Regions from separate parts of the Homo sapiens genome. Here region 2 is linked to region 1. Evidence: fine-mapped expression QTL. Tissue or cell type: whole blood. Region 1 holds a variant in brackets; the other region holds the start of a gene. All regions are shown on one strand. Distances are between the middles of the regions.

The links. PIP is the estimated chance that this variant, and not a neighbour inherited with it, causes the effect.
Region 2: it holds the start of SPRYD3, and the variant in region 1 is fine-mapped to the expression of SPRYD3 in whole blood (TOPMed, PIP above 0.99). The same link has a PIP of 0.9 or more in lung, sigmoid colon and stomach.

Annotation. Positions count from the first base shown.
Region 1 is chr12:52,807,657-52,810,337 of GRCh38, forward strand. It overlaps KRT4 (keratin 4), which reads right to left. Exons shown (of 9, transcript NM_002272.4): 4 at 1,727-1,822; 5 at 1,030-1,194; 6 at 638-763; 7 at 1-208. Among named protein-coding and RNA genes, the nearest start is that of KRT4, 5.1 kb to the right of the region's middle. The variant C/T (reference allele first, on the strand shown) is at 1,579.
Region 2 is chr12:53,078,030-53,080,710 of GRCh38, forward strand. SPRYD3 (SPRY domain containing 3) reads right to left here and starts at 1,361. Exons shown (of 11, transcript NM_032840.3): 1 at 1,282-1,361. The coding sequence starts at 1,304. RefSeq lists a silencer at 1,062-1,341.

The DNA of each region.
Region 1 (2,681 bases):
CCTCCAGCAGTTTGCGGTAGGTGGCGATCTCGATGTCCAAGGCCAGCTTCACACTCATGAGCTCCTGGTACTCACGCAGCATTCGTGCCAGCTCCTCCTTGGCCTGCTGCAGGGCAGCCTCCAGCTCTACGCGCTTGCTGTGGGCATCTTTAAGGGCATTCTCACCTCGCTGCTCTGCATCAGCCACGGATACCTGAAGAGTCTGGCACTATTGACAAAGGCATTAGATAGGTGGTCAGCAGTGCCCTGCCTTCAAGGCCTCTACACCTGTCCCCTCCCCTGGTCCAGCTTTCCTTGGGTTAGGATGTCAAGATTCTATCTGTTCTGCCCACTTTCCCTGAGACTTATGCATCTCATTCACTCCAGCCATAGCCCACCAATGCCTCCACCAGACTGATTAAATAAAAATGAGCAAAAACCCATGAAGAAGAGCCAAGAAACCTATGCACAGGAGCGTCATGGTGTGCCAACTAGGATATTGCTGAAAAAATCTGGGTATGCCTTGCACAAAGAGCTATGAATTCCCAGCAACAAGCTCAGGGTCTTCTGGCCTGATGCTTTATCTGCTTGTCCACTCTGGAGATGTCTGCCTGAGGCCCCTGGCCTTGTGCTCCATCTGGAAGGGAGTGACACCCACCTGCTTCTTGATGTTCTCGATCTCTGCCCGCAGCCTCTGGATCATCCTGTTGAGCTCTGCAATTTCACTCTTGGTGTTCTTCAGGTTGTCACCATGTTGGTCAACCGAGATCTGGAGCTGCTGGACCTAAGACTCAAGAAGACACAGAGAACCAGGTGTTAGGGGCATTTGGGTAGGGTCCATTCTCAAGTGAACTCAGTGAGAATTGCCACAGGTGGCAAGAATAGCACCAAATGTCAAGTAGTTTCAAATCAGACCAGGACCAACGATGCCTGGGAGAGTCTGTTCATATCTGACTTCTATTGGGCTTGAGCTAATGATCACCTGTTCACAGACATCAAAAGCAGAGCCCCAGAGCCAGCCCCATCTCCTGAGAGATCCATACCACCCACCTTGGTCTGGTACAGGGCTTCAGCCTCAGCCTTGCTCCTCTGGGCAATCTCCTCGTACTGGGCACGGACCTCGGCAATAATGCTGTCCAGGTCCAGGTTGCGGTTGTTGTCCATGGAAAGGACCACGGACGTGTCGCTGACATGGGTCTGCATCTGGGACAGCTCCTGCAGGGCAAATGTCTCACATCAGCCCCCCCAGGAAAGCCTTCACTGACCTGATACAGGCTCAAGTAGGAGCAGAGCTGGCATTCACAATGTGTAGGAAGGGGAGAGACAGGTAAAGTTCTAAGGAGAAATCAAGTGGTTGTGACAGTTCAGGATGGAAGAGCAATGCTTCTAGTCTTTACTGGTCCCCAGGAACCATAAGCCACTCTAATGCAGTGAGTGCCGGTGTGTTGGAATGGAAGGGAAGGGAATGGATCCATTTCACCAGAAAAAAAATGCTAGACAGCAATGAATTCTATTCCAAGCACTCTTTAGATCTAATCACCCCGTCTAAGACCAAGACCACATCTGGTTCTAAGAATCTCCCAGTTGAATTTCCCACTT[C/T]AAACCTTTCTATGCATGACCTTGATGAGAACCCACTGCCCTAAAATAAGGGAGCTGGAGTCCTTTCAAAAAACTGTGAATCCCAACCAGCAGCGTCACAGATGGGGGATTCCCTTTCCCTGGATGGAGGGGAGGATGGAGCCCTCACCGCATCATAGAGGACCTTCAGGAAGTTGATCTCGTCATTAAGACTGTCCACCTTGGCCTCCAACTCCACCTTGTTCAGGTAGGCAGCATCCACGTCCTGCAGAGGAGTAAGGAGGATAAGAGATGAGGAGCAGGAATGCCAGTAGGAGGACGGGTTACTAAGTGACACCGACAGGTGTTCTCAGCAGCATTTAGGAAAGACTACTCAGCAGCAGGGGAGCTGGTGGGAGACCAATTATTTTATATATTCTTCCCTAGAGCCACCTGAAGACATGGAAGTTGATTATCCAAATAGGCTATTCTAACAGTATGGAGATCTCTCAAAGAACTAAAAATAGAACTACCATTGGATCCAGCAATCCCAGTGCTGGAATTCCACTCAAAGGAAAAGAAATCATTGTAACAAAAGGATACCTGCACTCATGTTTATCGCAGCACAATTCACAATAGCAAAGATACCAAATCAACCTAAGTGTCCATCAACAGATGATTGGATAAAGAAAATATGATACATATACACAATAGAATACTACTCAGCCATAAAAAGAGAATGAAATTATGTCTTTTTGCAGCAATGTGGATGGAACTGGAGGCCATTATCTTAAGTGAAACAACTCAGGCACAGAAAGACAAATAACACATGTCCTCACTTATAAGTGGGAGCTAAATCATGTGTACATGTGGACATAGAGCATGGAATGATAGACAATGGAGACTTGAAAAAGGGAGGGCTGGGAGGGGCTGGATAATGAGAAATTACTTATTGGATATAATGTATGTTATCCCAGCAATGGATACTCTAAAAGCCCTGACTTCACCACAACACAAACTATCCACGTAACAAAATTACACTTGTACCCCATGAATTTATAAAAATAAAAATCAGCTGGGTGCGGTGGCTCACAACTGTAACCCCAGCACTTTGGGAGGCTGAGGCAGGCGGATGACCTGAGGTC
Region 2 (2,681 bases), 270 kb after region 1:
AAAACAATGAGCCAGGTGTGGCAGCATGCACCTGTAGTCCCAGCTACTAAGGAGACTGAAGATGGCTTGAGTCTGGCAGGTCAAGGCTGCAGTCAGTTCTGATTGTGCCACTACATTCCAGCCTGGCTGACAGAGCAAGACCCTGTCTCAAAAAAAAAAGAAAAAAAAATGCCATGATCCTGGGCCTGGTGGCTCACGTCTGTGATCCCAGCACTTTGGGAGGCCGAAGTGGGAGGATCACAAGGTCAGAAGTTGAAGACCAGCCTGACCAACATGGTGAAACCCCATCTCTACTAAAAATACAAACAAATTAGCCAGGCGTGGTGGTGCGCACCTGTAATCCCAGCTACTCAGGAGGCTGAGGCAAGAGAATTGCTTGAACCTGGGAGGTGGAGTTTGCAGTGAGCCGAGATCGTCCCACTGCACTCCAGCCTGGGTGACAGAAACTCCATCTCAAAAAAAAAAAAAAAAGCCACGATCTTAATCAGTTCCTAAAGATCATTCCAGCTGCTGGTTGGAGAACTGATCACAAGAGGATCAAGAACAGATGTGGGCAAACAATTCAGACGTTGTTGCAGCAGTTCACATGAGAAATGACATCCACTAAGTCGGTAGCAGCGCCGATGGATGGGGGTGGGATGATCCAGGTATTTAAACAACCATCAGTCCCTACATATAAATGAATGAATGATTTTTCCTGGGAGCCAAAAGTGAGAAAGAGGTGAAGTACTCTTCTCTTCCCATTCCCTAAACACTGGGACAGGGGTTTTCTTGAGGCCTGACATTGCCTTGCACACGGTAGGTGCTTAGTAAGCCTTGGCTGGGCTGAATTTGATCCCAATACGCAAATTACGACTCTTATGCAGTAGCTACAACCCACCACGTGGCCCAGAAGAGTAGGCACCTGTGGGACAGACAGCCCTAAGATTCCACTCCCGGGCACTCAGCCAGGACTCAACCCCAGGTAGATGCTGGTTGCGCAGACCCCACAGTCTTGGCACCGGCGAGTGGCGGCCCTACTGGGCCCTGTCTCCTCCCCGGGCACGGCCTGATCACTGAGATGAGACCCGGGAGCAGCCGGGCCCCAGCCCATCCGTGTGCCTACGCCCAGTCTCCCCAGGCCCTGCACTGGGCCGAGGGTGCAGCAACAGAAGAAGCCCAGTGACCAGAGCGCAGGGCCCCGCCCCTGGCCCCAGAGCCCCCGCCCAGGACCCCCGCCTTCCGCTTCAGGCTCCGGGGAGATACGAGGCCTCCGGGACCCCGCCCCCGATCCCCGCCTACCGGGGCCGCCGCGTCCTCCTCATCCATAGGCCTCTCAGCTCCGCACACAAGCTCTTCGGCCGCCGCCACCACACACATCCGGGTCCCCGCCTTTCCTTCACTCCTAGAGGCCCGCCCCGTCCCCCATCTAAGCCAATCAGCAACGGCCTCTGACGACGGGCACCTGCAGGAGCCAATCGGAAGGCGCAGGCAGGGTGTGGGGCGCGGCCCGGTGCCCTGGGTACCCAGCTCAGGGCCCCGGTCTGGTCAACCCGGCTGTTGCTGGGGTGAGCGAAGGCGACGTGGCAGCGCGGACGCTGCTGGGTGCCTGGGCGCCGCTGAGGCGGACAGGGGGCGGCTCTTGAGCGGCGCCGGGGAGACGGGACGGGCGGAGAAGGTGGCCACGCTCGCACAAACGTTGCGAGTATTACTTGAGCCCTCCTTCCGCGCTGGACTGAAATAAAAGCTTTACCGGAATGTCCATTTAATCCACGGTGCAGCCTTATGAAATAAATCTTATCTCCTTTTTACGGATGGGCCGAAGGCTGGCCTCGATAGCCTGCGCGCTTAACTGTTATGCTGTGTACCCTCCCGAGCTCTGTTTCATGGCACCGCTCGCTCATTATTGGCAAGAACATTCCATTCCAGGAGGAGAGAACTGGGGATGCAGAAGGCACAGTGGCACGAAGCGGCATTCTGTGGAGGAACACAGGGCTTTGGTAGGCTGAAGGAAAGTTAGACTGGGGTTAGAATGTGAAGGGACGAAGACACGAATATTTATTGAACACCTACTAGGGAGTGCCTACCTGCCATTCTGGGGGGTTGGACTCCTAGATGAGGACTTCCTTGCTCCCTTCCCATCACCATATCTCTCTCTTCTGGACGGAAAAGATTCCTCTCCTCTGTAGCACCTCATTTATAATACTTTTTTTTTTGAGACGGAGTCTCACTCTGTCGCCCAGGCTGGAGTGCAGTGGCGCGATCTCGGCTCACTGCAAGCTCTGCCTCCTGGGTTCACGCCATTCTCCTGCCTCAGCCTCCCAAGTAGCTGGGACTACAGGCGCCCGCCACCACGCCAAGCTAATTTTTTTTGTATTTTTGGTAGAGACGGGGTTTCACCGTGTTAGCCAGGATGGTCTCGATCTCCTGACCTCTTGATCCGCCCACCTCGGCCTCCCAAAGTGTTGGGATTACAGGCGTGAGCCACCGCCCCCCGCCATTTATAACACTTATTACCGTCTTGCTTTCGTTATTGGAGTTACTTGTGTGTGTAGACCCGTCTCTGCTAGACTGTGAGCTCCTTCAGACCCCAGACTATTCTATTCTTATCACACTAGGTACTCTAACGTGTTGAGTGCCAGGAAAGCCATCAGCTCGCATACCGTGAATAGTGCCCACTCGGCATAACGGCAATGGGTGAT